Linked DNA regions of Homo sapiens: all the other regions are linked to region 3. Evidence: fine-mapped QTL for protein levels in blood plasma. A gene starts in region 3. Each other region holds a variant in brackets. All regions are shown on one strand. Distances are from middle to middle. Region 1 has its middle 12 kb from the start of CAPN9. Region 2 has its middle 6.2 kb from the start of CAPN9. Region 3 holds the start of AGT (angiotensinogen).

The links. PIP is the chance, under the fine-mapping model, that this variant and not a neighbour inherited with it causes the effect. The UK Biobank Pharma Proteomics Project read protein levels with antibody pairs (Olink). The fine-mapping took linkage between variants from a reference panel, not from the people measured, so its PIPs are less certain.
Region 1: its variant is fine-mapped to the plasma level of the AGT protein (UK Biobank, PIP above 0.99).
Region 2: its variant is fine-mapped to the plasma level of the AGT protein (UK Biobank, PIP above 0.99).

The regions. Positions count from the first base shown.
Region 1 is chr1:230,732,618-230,737,953 of GRCh38, forward strand. It overlaps a transcript of AGT not described here. Among named protein-coding and RNA genes, the nearest start is that of CAPN9, 12 kb to the right of the region's middle. The variant A/G (reference allele first, on the strand shown) is at 2,288.
Region 2 is chr1:230,738,533-230,743,868 of GRCh38, forward strand. It overlaps a transcript of AGT not described here. Among named protein-coding and RNA genes, the nearest start is that of CAPN9, 6.2 kb to the right of the region's middle. The variant G/T (reference allele first, on the strand shown) is at 3,122.
Region 3 is chr1:230,712,502-230,717,790 of GRCh38, forward strand. It overlaps AGT (angiotensinogen), which reads right to left and starts at 1,621. Exons shown (of 5, transcript NM_001384479.1): 1 at 1,585-1,621.

The DNA of each region.
Region 1 (5,336 bases), 20 kb after region 3:
GGTATTAAATACTGTGTATATTATATACTGTGCACAAAGTAAGCTACAGAAAATAAAATGTTACTAAGAAAATCGTAACAAAGAGAAAACATATTTACTCTCCATTAAATGGAAGTGGATCATCATCAAGGCCTTCATTCTTATCATCTTCAGGTTGAGTAGGCTTAGGAGGAAGAGAAGGAATTGGTCTTGCTGTCTCAAGGGTGGCAGAGGTGGAAGAAAATCCAAGAAGTGGCCCCACATAGTTCAGATCTGTGTTGTTCAAGGACCAACGGTATTTGAGGACTATACTGTATTAACACAGTGAATGCAGACAGGTACCTAAAACCATCCCAGGCACAGAGGACAAGCTTAAATAACTGATCTGTTAAAAGTCAGTCCCTGCTGGTCTCGGTGGCTCACACCTGTAATCCCAGCACTTTGGGAGGCCAAGGCAGGTGGATCATCTGAGGTCGGGCGTTCAAGATCAGCCCAACCAACATGGAGAAACCTCATCTCTACTAAAGATACAAAAAATTAGCCAGGCATGGTGGCGCATGCCTGTAATCCCAGCTACTCAGGAGGCTGAGGCAGGAGAATCACTTAAACCTGGGAGGCAGAGGTTGCAGTGAGCCGAGATTGCGCCATTGCACTCCAGCGTGGGCAACAAGATCTAAACTCCGTCTCAAAAACAAACAAACAAAAAAGTCAGTTCCTTTTTGCAAAATTCCTTTCTGATTGAAATGATACAGCATTACTATCAGCTCTGAAACTCAGTGTTTCCAAATACACTTTTCCACATTCTCCTAGCAAAATAACATCAAAGGGCGATGCTTATGAAAGCAAGTGCCCATGAGAAATGCCACAAGGAGACTCCAGTGAGCGCCTTTAGTTGAGGTCGATTTTCACTCGACAAATCACTAAGTGATTTGTTTGCCTTTGTCTACACCCTGACAGTTGTCTCATTTGCTACAATTTAACAAGTCACGCCAAAATGTCATCCTTGCTTATTGTGTGAAAACAGAAGGCACTAGAAGGACAGACTTTTCCTCTGGAGAACTTGGCAATGAAGTTCATTGAGTTGGGATGAGCTAATCCAATCATATATTACAGGAGACATACAAATGGATTTCCACAACTGTTTTCACCCTAGTCTCTGCCTGGTCATTACATTTGATTTGATGGGGCCATTTGAGCACCGCTGTGAAGACTGGAGTAGTCTTCATCTCAGCTGGTCTACCAGTCAGCCACTTCCACGTGGCTGTCTTCTGCGTGGAGACCATTTCATGTTCTTGTTCTGCCAGTCATTCAGGGACCACTACCCAAGAGGCCGGGCCCAGATGACAGTCCAGGCTCCACCTTTGTGATGCACAGAAGCCCAACTCAAGCTTCTTGAAGCTTCTCATCTTCTCACTTAGGTTGGCACATGTATTTTCTCTTTCTCTTTTATAGATGACCCTTTAACAAGTGCGGGTCCCTGGCACATACTGGAGTTTGTGTGTCATTGTGTATGTGTTATATTTACAAAAGGTGAATGCAACTCAAGTGTCCACCAACAGATAAATAGAAAGACAAAATATGACATATCCATACGATGGAATATTATTCAAGCAAAATAGAAAGGACATTCTGACATATGCTACATCATGGATGGACCTTGAAGACATTATGCTAAGTAACATAAACCAGTCACAACAAGACAAATGCTATATGATTCCACTTTTACGAGGTTCTTAGAATAGTCAGATTCATAGAGACGGAAAATAGAATGGTGGTTTCCAGGGGCTGGGGGAGGGGAGAATGGGGAGATTTTGCTTAATGGGCACAGAATTTCAGTTGGGGAAGATAAAAAGAATTGTGGAGATGGATGGTGTGATGAGTCCACAACAATGCAAATATACTTGATGCCAATGAACTGAGCACTTAGAAATGGTTAAGGTTGTAAATTTTATGTTACATGTATTTTACCATAATTTTTATATATGCATTTATAAATATATATATGGTGTGTGTATGTGTGTGTGTGTGTGTGTGTTTCATCCCTATGTACAAGGCAAGACTGCTTCCAGTGAAAAATTTAATTAATAGCTGGTAAATATAACTGGCTGGTTTTTTTGTTTTTCTTTTTTTTGAGATGGAGTCTCGCTCTGTCGCCCAGGCTGGAGTGCAGTGGTGCAATCTCGGCTCACTGCAAGCTCCACCTCCCGGGTTCATGCCACTCTCCTGCCTCAGCCTCCCAAGTAGCTGGGACTACAGGCGCCTGCCACCACGCCTGGCTAACTTTTTTTTTTGTATGTTTAGTAGAGAC[A/G]GGGTTTCACCATGTTGGCCAGGATGGTCTCGATCTCCTGACCTCGTGATCTGCCCACCTTGGCCTCCCAAAGTGCTGGGATTACAGATGTGAGCCATCGCGCCCGGCCATAACTGGCTGTGTTTATCCCTGGAGGAGAGGGTCTGTGTCTATCCCTGGAGGAGAGGGTCGCTCATCGCCTCCCCGTTGCTCATGGAGGACTGCGCTTGGTACTTTATAGGCCTCCCGCCCTCCTGCAGGAGAACATTGTCAACATCACAACTGGCTGGCAGGGCCATTGTCTTTAAGGGCCTCACTGAACGCTTCCTTCCACTACCTCCCAGAGCATGGAAATCTCGCCCCGACTGCAGCGGGAGAAGGGGGCACAGTGCTGTTTCTCCTTCTTCCTTCTCGCTCCTTCTTAGAGTGGGCGAGCAACCTGGTTTCACCTTCCAAAGTGTCGTTAGTTACCTCAAGAAGGGTCATCAACTTCTCATGAGATCCTCAAACTCAATGATTTCCGAGTCATGTTTAATATTTTTACATTTTTATTTTAAAATTACAATGTAAATTAATACAGTCTTTTTTAAAAACTCAATACAGAAGTAGGTAAAGTGGCTTTTTTGTTCTCCTTTGCCCCCCTGCCCAACCCCACTTGGAGGAGGCCTGCCCCTGGTCTTAGCAGCTGGGCCCTGGGCTGACTCACCTGGTGGCCCCTCCCTCGGAGTGCACTTGTCACCCTGCTCCACCTCCTGGGAGGCTGATTACACAGATGGTGTCACAGGGCTCCCTTCCTTCCCTGGCTTCCACTCCACAGCTTCTCCTTCCCCTTAGGTTGGCCTCAGGTGACTGCATCCTCCCCCATCAGCTCCCATCCCGCCCTCCTTCCTGAAACTGCTTCTCCTTCACCCCCTCAGAGCTGTAGATTCTAGGGGTACCCTGCTGCTTCCAGCCCCCCAACTGCTCAGTCTATCATGGTCTTCCTGCCCACATCTTTGTAAATAGTTCATCGATTAAACACTCCTCCAATTGCCCCATTCAAGTGTCTTCTCAGGACCCTGCCTTTACTGTTTAAAAGAAAACAGTCCCACCTGTCATTTAGGCGGGGTTTGGGAAAGAGTGTCAAAACACAAAGGTGATGTCTTAAATCCAAAGAGTTTGCATATCTTTGCTATATTTCTTGGTGCAGTTGAAAACACATAGGCTGATTAATAATACTCAGCTCCTAAAATTATTTTCTGCTTCCAAGCTTCTGAAACACATTTATGTTTAAGGCAAAGTTTGTGTGTGTGTGTGTGTGTGTGTGTTTAATACAATTGACCCCTTATCATTTTGATCCTGAGCATAAGAATTATTTCAGCTGGGCGCGGTGGCTCACACCTGTAATCCCAGCACTTTGGGAGGCTGAGGTGGGCAGATCATGAGGTCGGGAGATTGAGACCATCCTGGCTAACACGGTGAAACCCCATCTCTACTAAAAATACAAAAAGCCGGGCATGGTGGCGGGCACCTGTAGTCCCAGCTACTCAGGAGGCTGAGGCAGGAGAATGGCGTGAACCCAGGAGGCAGAGCTTGCAGTGAGTTGAGATCACTCCACTGCACTCCAGCCTGGGTGACAGAGCGAGACTCCATCTCGAAAAAAAAGAATTATTTCGAACACTTTTGTTTCCGCAGTATTCTTGCAACATCTGGGGCATGAACACAGTTCTCAGATATAAATGGGAACGGAGCAAGGAAGAAATAGGTTACTCTGGGTGTTCAGGATTTCATTAAATGTTTTCACTACCTCAGCTTTCTTTTCCCCCTAAGTAGTCAGTGACATGGTGGTATCCTATCTAATCCAATTCTTCTAGCAGCACTTTGGGGCAAAATTTCAAAGCCCCAAAGCTCAGTTTCCTGCTAGGCTGGGCTTCGATCCCTTAAAAGGGTAGAGGTGGTCACAACTGAATGCTTCCCTGGAGTCTGTGGGAGGCATCTATCCCTTTTCAGCACCTGGATCCCTGTTGTTCTTGAGTGGAGGCTGGAAATTCTGTGAATCGGAAGCTCTGTGAATCGAAAGCTCTGTTCTCCTTGGGCTGAGAGGCAGGTACCCACTAAGCCAACCACCCTGGAGCTGGAATCTGGAGCACAGAGGTTTGAACGCTGAAGACAGCTGACTTTCAACCACAGGCATTTCTGACCCTGGTGCAAGACCATTTCTGCTCCTGCTCCCCAATCTCCCCTAGTTCTTGCTCATTTCCATGCCTGGTTCTTAGCTTCCCAGTCCATTTTCTGAGTTCCCCAAACCCTTCATCAAATACCTCTCTGCCTAGTTTATACTGATCAGACTGCATTGCCCGCAAGAAAAACCCTGACACATGCAGGAGTCATCTGCACAAAGTGCCATGCGTAGGTGACTACTAAGAATAATACTTAGAAATTGTTTATTATTATTATTATTATTTTGAGATGGAGTTTCACTTTTGTCACCAAGACTGGAGTGCCATGATGTGATCTCAGCTCACTGCAACCTCTGCCTCCCAGGTTCAAGCGATTCCCTGGCCCCAGCTTCCTGAGTAGCTGAGAATACAGGTGCCCACCACCACACCTGGCTAATTTTTGTATTTTTAGTAGAGATGGGGTTTTACCATGTTGGCCAGGCTGGTCTTGAACTCCTGACCTGAGGTGATCCACCTGCCTCAGCCTCCCAAAGTGCTGAGATTACAGGCTTGAGCCACTGCGCCCAGCCTGTTTATTATTATTATCATTATTGCTATCAAATCTCCCTTTTAGTACTACAACTTTACGAAACACTGTAGGAGGCAAAATGAGGCACAGAGCTTATTTATCTTTTTAAGATAGCTTTGAGATGTAATTCAGATACTGTACATACAATTCACCTATTTAAAGTGTACAATTCAATGATTTTTAGCATATTTAGAGTTGTGCAACCACCACCACAGTCAATTTTAGAAGATTTCATCATCTCAAAAAGAAAGCCTTTAGCCATCACCCCCACCCCTCCCACTTCACCCCATCCCCAGCCCTAAGCAACCACTAATGACTTCCTGTCTCCATAGATTTCCATAGT
Region 2 (5,336 bases), 26 kb after region 3:
CATAAAAATTGCTATGACACTTTGTGAAAGCCATAAGCTCGAAAGAGACAAATAGTTCTCTTCCTGAGCCTTCCATCCACACAAATATTAGGTATGCTTGCTGGCTAATGCTACCTTGCCAAAGGGGGAGGATACGTCATTTATAAGAATCAGAAAATGGTGCATTAAAAAGAGAAAATGGAGAGTGGGAAAGGATGAGATGCATAAAGAGATGCTGAAAATAAACCTTTACCACAAAAAGATGGGAATTCAATTAGATGTATGTCCCATAACTAAATACACAACTGTAGATGTAGGTGATAAATCAAATGAGATATTTTAAATTAAATTATTTTAATAAACCCAGTAATATTGTACACAGACAATATAAAAATCTCTGTAGTCAAAGGACTTTTAAAAAAATTACATCTCCTTCTGCTATAGAAAAACTTCACACACCTCCAGCAGCAAAGAATCTTATTTCTCAGTGGTAAGGCATGTTAGGGATACTCTTGCTACTATGTAACAGACTTTATCAATGTTCCCTCCAATTAAACATAATAAGGCCAGGTGCAGTGGCTCACATCTGTAACCCCAGCACTTTGGGAGGCCAAGGCAGGAGAATCATTTGAAGCTAGGAGTTCAAGACCAGTGTGGGCAACATACTGAGACTCCCTCCTCTACAGGTTTTTTTTTTTTTTTAATTAGCTGGGTATGACTATAGTCCCAGCTGCTCAGGAGGCTGAGGCAGAAGGATGGCTGGAGCCCAGGAGTTGGAAGCCACAGTGAGCTATGATCATGCCACTGCACTCCAGCAGTGTCTCTAAAATAAAATAATAATAATAAATGTCCAATCACAATTTCCACTATGGGGCGGGGGGTGGCTGGGAATTAAGAGTCACCTTGTCCACCAGGGTGTTGCCCTGAGCAGGGCATGAGATGGTGTGGCAGAGTCTGCAGAGCTGAGAGCCCAAAGCTGGGGACCACTGAGAAGAGCAAATGAGTTTCTGAGGTTCGGCAAGCACAGAGAAACCAGGTGGAGGGCTCATCATTAACGGGAAATGTTGGAGCCAGGCTGAGCTTCCGGGGTAATTACGGTGCATTGCCCCCGATAGGAAAATGAAACACAAGTTATGCTAGCTGTGACCCCTCCACAGCAAATACCGTAAGGAAAGAAGCTGGTTCCCAGAGACACCTCAACCAAGAAGATCCCAGAGAGCCAGAGGTCCCTGCTCCAGTGGCAGGTTTGGTAAGATTCACCCTGACCTAGATGCCACTATCAGAAGGAGGAAGGAGGAGGAAGATCACTTATTTGGGGAAAAGTGGACCTGTTACTGGAAAGGGGTCCTGATCCAGACCCCAGGAGAGGGTTCTTGGACCTCACGCAAGAAAGAATTCAGGACGAGTCTATAGATCGAAAGCAAGTTTATAAAGACGTAAAGAAAGAATGGCCACTCCGTAGGTAGAGCAGCAGTATGGGCTGCTCAACTGAGTATACTTAGGGTTATTTCTTGGTCATATGCTAAACAAAGGGTGGATTATTCATGAGTTTACCAGGAAAGGGGCAGAGGCTTCCCTGAAACAAGGCTTCCTCTCCTTTTTAGACTATAGAGGATGACTTCCTGACATTGCCATGGCATTTGTAAACTGTCATGATGCAGGTGGGAGTGTCTTTTAGTATGCTAATGTATTATAATTAGTGTATAATGAGCAGTGAGGACGAACAGAGGTCACTTTCATCGCCATCTTGGTTTTAGTGGGTTTTGGCAGCTTCTTTACTGCATCTTGTTTTATTTATCAGTGGGTTCTTTGTGACCTGTATCTTTGTGACCTGCCGACCTCCTATGTCATCCTGTGACTAAGAACGCCTAACCTCCTGGGAAAGCAGCCAGGAGGTCTCAGCCTTATTTTACCCAACCCCTATTCAAGTTGGAGACATTCTGGCTCAAACACCTCTGACAAACCTTACAGGATATTTGAACTTTGAAGTAACTGCTAGTTTACAGAGACAGAAGAAGAGAGATAGAGTAAGAGAGACCATTTTAAAATGAATAAGAGTGTCACACAACAAAATCTAAATACAAGTTTTGGTGCGAGGTGGTAACTGGGGACTCCAGAGGGCAAGAAGAGATAATATTTTTTTTAATTAGGATTTTTGGCCAGATGCGGTGGCTCACGCCTGTAATCCCAGCACTTTGGGAGGCTGAGGTGAGTGGATCATGAGGTCAAGAGATCAAGACCATCCTGGCCAACATGGTGAAACCCCATCTCTACTAAAAATACAAAAATTAGCTGGATGTGGTGGCACACGCCTGTAGTCCTAGCTACTTGGGAGGCTGAGGCAGGAGAATAGCTTGAACCCGGGAGGTGGGTTACGGTGAGCCAAGATCGCACCACTGCACTCTAGCCTGGCAACAGAGGAGACTCTGTCTCAAAAATTAGGATTTTTTTGGGCCCTAAACTGCGGAGAGTAAATTCCTATCCTGCTGCACCTGTGATTCAAGTCATCCTAAGATCTGTGCATAGCATCAACCTCCAGCTCCTAGATGAGAAGGAGAAAGGAAATCGTCTTGGGCTGAGGTCAAACTCCAGGGAAAGAAATCCCAGAGAGTTAGCAGAAGGCAGACAGGTATATTTATCATTCTTCAACAATGAATGTTTAAGGAGTGAAACTACTTCTCAGGGACGGAAGTACAATTTCAACGGTGTCACCTTAGGCCATAGGGGCAGTGATCTAGAGCTTACTTAGGGAGATTAGGCCTTGGAGGAAACTATATTCCACAATCAAGCCAGAAAGCAAGGCCAGAGCTGAGAGAAGCTATAGGCAGCTTGTGCAGCCCTGGGAAACCAGGGGAACCACCAGGTCGTCCACGAGCCTATGCGCCTACAAGCTGGGATCTCTTGAGTCAGACAGCTGAGGCCAAAGACTGGCATCACCCTGTGGAGCAGCGAGTGTGGGGGAGATTTGGGCTGGGTGCTCTGTTGCCTTTCAGGAGATGGCTCTTACCCTATGGTGTGATGCCTGAGCACGGCTCATTCCCACTGAAGAAAAGATTTGTTATGGTTCATGAATGAGTGCCCACTAGGACAGGGGTGAAACTAGGAGTGTTCCAGGGATGGACAAGTCCCTGGATGAAGAAAG[G/T]GAGACCCTCACCTGATGTCAGGCTTACCAATGACCTTGGGAGGGGATGGATAGGGAAGCAAGGTCTGGGTGAAGATCTAGTTCTCATCTTCTAGGAAATGGGGGTGGCCCTCAGGACAGATAAGCTCCTTTGCAAATGTACAGACATCTTGCGAGGAGAGATACACGGGGGAGGGAAGGCAGAGCCCACCTAGGCCAAAACATCATTGTGGGCTTTAAGTTTCAAACTAGGCTTTTAAAAGTCGACAACAGTTAAGGCTAGTGTTGTGGTGTACACCTGTAGTCCCAGCCACTGGGGAGGCTGAGGTAGGAGGATCTCTTGAGCCCAGGAGTTCAAGCCTTCAGTGAGCTATGATCATGTCACTGCACTCCAGCCTGAGTGACAGAGCAAGACTCCGACTCTAAAATAAAATTTTAAAAAATTCAACCAGGTAAATCTATAGGGTTAAAGCTAAAAAAATATAAAAGGCATATAGAAAAGTCTCCCCACATTCCTCTACCCCCATCTACTCCACCTACCCCCAGAAAACAGAACCACTATTATGAGTAGATCTTTGTGTAGTTTCCGAGAAATTTTTATGCAGATATAAATAAATATTTTTTGCCTTCTTTCTCCACAAATGCTGGCATACTCTACATGCCATTCTGCACTTTGAATTTTCTTTTTTCTTTTTCTTTTTGAGACAGAGTCTCGCACTGTCACCCAGGCTGGAGTGCAGTAGCACCATCTCGGCTCACTGCAACCTCCACCTCCCGGGTTCAAGCAATTCTCCTACCTCTGCCTCCCAAGTAGCTGGGATTACAGGTGCCCACCACTATGCCTGGCTAATTTTCTGTATTTCTAATAGAGACAGGGTTTCACTATGTTGGCAAGGCTGGTCTTGAACTCCTGACCTCATGATCCGCCTGCCTTAGCCTCCCAAAGTGCTGGGATTACAGGCGTGAGCCACTGCACCCGGCCACTTTGACTTTTCAGTTGAACACTGTATCCCAGGGACCTTCCCACATCAGTGTATGCAGAGTTTCCTTGTTCCGTTTTATGGCTGTACACTGTTCCACTTCATGATTAGCTGGACCATAATTTTCTTTACCATTCCCCCAACAGAGGGCACTAAGTGCTTTCCAACCTTTTTTAATGTAAACAATGCCACCATGAAATGAGCAAGCTGGTATACCTTTCACTTTTCGGGGTGCGGCTCTATCATCAGGATAAAGATAAATTTCTAGAAGGGAAACAGCTGGATCAGAGTGGGTGCATTGGTAGCTCTGAGAGGTATTCATAAATAGTTCTCCAAAAAGGAGACACCAATTTACACTCCCTTCAGCAAGTAGGGGGGTGTTTTACTTTTTCTTTTTGAGATGGAGTCTCGCTCCTCGCCCAGGCTGGAGTGCCGTGGCTCGATCTCGGCTCACTGCAGCCTCTGACTCCCGGGTTCAAGCAATTCTCCTGCCTCAGCCTCCCAAGTAGCTGGGATTACAGGCACCCCCACCACGCCTGACTCATTTTTTGTATTTTTAGTAGAGTCAAGGTTTTACCATGTTGGCCAGGCTGGTCTTGAACTCCTGACTTCAGGTGACCCATCTGTCTCAGCCTCCCAAAGTGCTGGGATTACAGGTGTGAGCCATTGCACGCAGTCGTCTTACTCTTAACATACCCAAAGTGTTCAACTTTTCTTCCAAGTCTGCCTCTCCTCCTTCTGTCACCACCATCACCCATTTGCTCAAGTCTGAAGGCAGGACGCCACCTTTACACCTCCACCCTTGCACCCCAGCAGAACGCCCTGACAGTACTTCTAGAAGAATCTGTCCCTTCCTGCCTTCACTCTGGTTACATCTGGAGTTAGCCTCAGCCCCTCTCACCTGGACACCTGTGCAGGTCCCCTGCCTCTCCACTCTCCACCCTCCTCGCCAGCCCACCCCATCCTCCACACTGCAAGCCAAGGGGCTACAAATGTCGCAGCCGGGTGGGCTCACTCTCAGCCCATCATAGGGCTGAGATCCCTCTGCAGGATCCAGGCTGTTTGGCATATCCCTCAAAACCCAGGCCCTGCTGTAAGGCCTGGACCGGGTGGGGTCCTAGAGGTCATCTCCCTGCACCCATGTGAAGCTTCTGAGCATTTGTCCTTGGGGTTTTGCCCCATGGCATCCCAGAGCCACCCAGGCACTATGTTCACCTCCTGCTGCCCTTCAAGATGAACAAGAAGAAGAGAAACAA
Region 3 (5,289 bases):
TTTCTGTGCAGAGAAGCCTAAGCCACCAGTTCACACCTAATCTAGACAGTCACATCAAATCAGGTCAACAGGGGAAACCTGTGGGAACCGACTGCTGGGAAGTCCTGCCTGACAAGCGCCAACTGTTCGGGGTTTGGATGGCGCTGGTCGATGCAGCCCGCTCACTGTGCTGCTCCTGCTCAGGCAGCGTCTCCAGAGACGCAATTCCATGGGCCATTTTTGAGGCAGAGACTGTCGTTTGTTCTCAGTTGTGATCTGCGGCTGCTCCCTAGGCTGGTTCCAGGTCTGCACGCAGCCGCGTCCTGGGAGTAATGGTGCTCTGGGGTGGCGGGCCTGACACCCTCGCCCTGAGTGCCCCTCCGCCTTCTCCTCTCCTGCCCCTGCCTCTTGGCCAGCACCTGCCCCTTCTATGTCTCCCTACTTCTCCCGGGCTGAATGCTAAAGGTGAAGATGACGGCTCATGCTCCTGTGGTGCCTGCCATTTGCAGGGCACTGTTCTCATATCAACCCCTCTGACCTCACCATAGTCCTCACCTTCCCTGAGGTTTCCCTGATGCAGTATTTCACCCTGCAGCTTTCCCCACCACACCGGGCACTCTCAACTCTCTCATCCAGCTCCCCTTTTCCCTCCTTATAACCCTCTGTACCATGTAGTTATGCACTTATTCTGTCCAGCGTCTTTGTCTGTTTGCTCTGATGTGAATGTGAGCCCCGGAACAGGGTTCCCGCTGTTGTGTTTACTAATACAGCCCACATTCCTAGGATAGTCCCTGGGACCTACTGCATCCTGGAGAAGTAGTTAATGAATTGGTTCATGCTGTTTTGCAGAGGAACAGAGAGGTCCAGTGACTTGTTCAACGTCACACAGCTGGGAAGAGACAGAACTAGGACTCAGAACCAGGCCCCCTGACTCTGTCATCCACGAGCTGAAGCACCAATCTACGCTGCCCTCGAATAAAATTGGAATCTGCCTTTTAGCTTATCCCAAAGCTTAGAAAGCACTTTCATGTTATATTAGTTCTCTTCAGCTATACCAGAGCCCCTGAGACAGGGAGCCCAGGCATCGTTATTAGTTCCATTTTATAGGTGAGCAAATCGAGGTTCAGGGAGATGGTGACCAGCCTGATGACACACAGTCAGGCAGTCTGTCTCGAGGGAGGGGTAGGGTGACCACTCTGGGGATCCCAGCTGGAGACTGACCGAGCCCGGCCCTTCCCTCCAGCCCCAATTCCTGCACAAGCCCTGCTATTCCTCCTGATGGCAAGAGGACCCGGTGGACTCTTGGCCATGATGACTCTGTTCCTGTACCAGTCTGCTCCGTTCCTGAGGACCCTAACTTTTCTCAGCGGAAGCAGGAAGACCTGACCATCTTGTCCTATTGCTGAGGAGGAGCAGCTCCTCCTGTAAGACCCCAGGTGGGCACCGAGTGGGGGAAAGCCCGCGTCCGGATGACTGGTCTTATGAGAGGGGAGAGGTTTTTCAGTCATCACCGTGCCTCCTCCCGGCCTTTTCCTCCTAGCCCACAGCTCAGTTACATCTGAGAGAGACAAGACCGAGAAGGAGCTGAGGGGGCCCCCGGCTTACCTTCTGCTGTAGTACCCAGAACAACGGCAGCTTCTTCCCCCGGCCGGGTCACGATGCCCTATTTATAGCTGAGGGGTGGGGATGGAGCTGTTCCCAGGCTGCCTGTGCACAGGCTGGAGAGGAGGGTTACATCACTTGGCCAGACCACAGGCTGGCCAGAAGGACAGATGCCAGAAGCGACACTCACGCTGGGACCTCTTCCAGGAAGTCTTAGTGATCGATGCAGAGTTTCACTGCTGAACAGAGTGAGCCGGTGCAGGGTCGAGTTACACATTTACCGAAGTTTGCAGGAGTCGGGGCCAAGGTTCCCAGAAACGGGAGCATCTCCCTAGGTGTGTGACAGCCTGAGGCCAACCACCCAGGCCTTCTGACCCAGCCCCGGGAGATGTACCCCCAAGAGGCCACAGGGACATGCAGGCCGGAGGTGCAGAGGGCAGAGGGCAGGGGAGAGTCTTGCTTAGGCAACACGGGGGCCACTTCTGACCCTGCTGCCCGCTCATGGGATGTGTGACCTTCAGCTGCTCCAAAGAGCCTACCCTGTGCAAAGGCCTCTAATAGACACTGGGGAAAACACACAAGCAAGTGAAAAGTGCCTTCTGGAAGTTTCCAGTGTAGCTGGGGAGACTGTTAAACACCAACAATAGCACAGCCAGATTGAAAGACACAAACAAAATGCCTTCAGGATGCAGGCATTGAAAGATGTGCTGTTCTGTGTTTATGCTGTACAAATTGCAAATGGTAAGTTTCACATGACCAGTAAAAGGGTTATAATTCTTATTTTCCTATAGGTAAGACTTGCTTTTGTAGTCATTATAACAGGGCATGACAGAGACCTTGGTGAGAGTCGCCAGAAGCCAGTGATCACAAGTGACGCAGTGGGTGAGGCAGGTTGGGAGTGGTGATGTGTCCAGCCTTAAATACATGGTATTAGGGCACTGAAGGGACAGGAAGGAAGATCCTGCTTCAACACAAGCAGGTTCAAGGAGCCACGGCATATCCACGATGGCAGACATGAAATTACCCAGGAATGGAACATTTAACAACAAAGAGCAGGAAGAGATGGTGCCTGGATATGAGGCAGAAGCTGTACATTCACTGACTGAACAATCAACAAACACACAAATACCTCTTTTTTACCCATTACTCTAAATCTTCATTTAAAAAAATCATATCTCACATGGGCCTGTAAATTCTGAAATACATTTTTTTAATTACTTTGTTCCTATAGATAGGGACTCCTCAAAAATCACTTGTCTGGGGCCCCACAGCGACTTAGAGGTGGCTTTGTCTGAACAGAACATTCGGGCCAGGTACAGTGCCTCGCATCTGTAATTCAAACACTTTTTGAGGCCAGGAGATGGAGGTTACAGTGAGCTATGATTGCACCACTGCACTCGAGCCTGGGCTACAGAGTAAGACTCTGTCTCTAAATAAATAGACAATTTTAATTTAATTTTTTTAAAATAAGAGACCATTCAAAGTGCTCCTGCCTGCGAATGGGTTAGTTGGAACAGTAGAGACTGGGGTCCTAGGCCTGGCTGTGCCACTAACTAGTTGTTTGAGGATCAGCAAGTGGTTTAACTGCAGTAACAAGTCCACCTGGACACAAGGGGGAGGTAAGGATCTAGCACTGATTAAGCAACAACCTTGTGCCCAGTGTTTAAATATTTCGGCTCTTTAAAGCCTCACAATTTGTTTCATTCACTCACTATTCCTGGTGCTCAGCATATGTCAGGGAACAAAACAAAGATCCTGGTCTTTGGGAGAGTTTCCACTGTGCCTGGGCCTCCTGCCTCGGGCCCTTGGAATGATCACTCCATTCAACAGCAAAGATAATAAACAACTGATCAGGTAACATGCTGGAAAGTGGTGTAAAAGAAAATAAAATTTCAGGACCCTCTAAATTTGGCCTCTAAGCAAGCCAAACTTCTCTTAATAATGACACGTTACTGGGGAGAACATAAGAAAATAATTTTGGTTAGATTGGACCCAATAAAGAATATCTGCTTAAACTTGTTGCAAGATTGGTTAAAAGCCCTTAATCCATGCCCAAGGCTGACTATCAGCTGGGGGATCTTCTACGTAAGGCTTTAAAGCTCATTAAAATCAATCAGAAAATTGCTAGAGAATTTTATTGAGAATGTAAATTATTCCCATAAGGAGCAGCCATTCAAACTGACTGCAGACATTTGACCCAGCTCAGATTCAGGCCAGTTTTCTTCCCAGTAGGCACCTTCTGTGTTCATTCCATCAGTGGAAGTTTCTTATGTGTACATTCCATCAGTGGAAGTTAGGGACAGAGCTTATCTGTGGCTAAATGAAGACTGTTGAATGAAAAGCAGAGGTTCTACATAGAAACCAAATAAGCCATCTGATATGGTTTGGCTGTGTCCCCACCCAAATCTCCAATTGTAGCTCCCATAATTCCCATGTGTCATGGGAGGGACCCAGTGGGAGGTAATTGAATCATGAGGGTGGATCTTTCTGATGCTGTTCTTGTGATAGTGCATAAGTCTCATGAGATCTGATGGTTTTATAAAGGGGAGTTCCCCTGAACATGCTTTCTCTCTTTTGCCAGCCACCATGTAAGATGTGCTTTTGCTCCTCCTTCACCTTCCACCATGATTGTGAGGCCTCCCCAGCCACGTGGAACACATAAGTCCATTAAACCTCTTTTTCTTTATAAATTACCCAGTCTCTGGTATGTCTTTATTAGCAGCGTGAGAACAGATACCATCAGTCAGAATCGGATCCAGGAAACCAGCCACATATGGAGTCAGCAGAGCATGATGTATTAGTCAGGCAGGTGCTATTGGGATATGTAGGGAAAAAAAAGAGAGATCAGACTGTTACTGTGTCTATATAGAAAGGGAAGACATAAGAGACTCCATTTTGAAAAAGAGCTGTACTTTAAACAATTGCTTTGCTGAGATGTTGTTAATTTGTAGCTTTGCCCCAGCCACTTTGACACAGCCCTAGATCCCTTAAACCTTGATTTTATACAACACATGTTTTTGTGAGCTCCAGGTTGGGTCAAAGTGGCTGGGGCAAAGCTACAAATTAACAACATCTCAGCAAAGCAATTGTTTAAAGTATAGCTCTTTTTCAAAATGGAGTCTCTTATGTCTTCCCTTTCTATATAGACACAGTAACAGTCTGATCTCTCTTTCTTTTCCCTACAGGGATGATGACGTTTGGGATCAGTTCTACTCTGTGGTTTCTGAGATGAGACTTGGTCTAAACTAGAACTCCTACTTTCCAATCTCTTGACCACCCAGCTAGTCATGGGATGAACACATAAACTCCTCTCTCCAGCAAAACTAAACCAAACCAGGAAAGCAGATTATTTATTTATGTATATGATGCAATCAAACCTGGAACCAGCTGTATGAGGTAAGGAAAGAATGAAGGGTAAATACAGGAATGGGGTTTCCATTTTTTGCCTCTGAGCCAAAACTAATTGTTTCACAGGAGCCTTGTTCTCTGCTGGGATCAGAACTGCAACCCCACATCATGCCTTGGAAGAGGCATGTGAGCCCTGAACATCATTTACTGGAAAGCAGGAAGAGGGGTGGAGCCTACTGTCCTGCATCCCATGATGGATCCTTGAAGTTCCAAGTTTTCCTTGCATGACAAGGACACTTCCCAGCATTTCTGGTCCTCATTGCTGCCCATCTATATCATGGGGGCTGGAACCGGGCATTT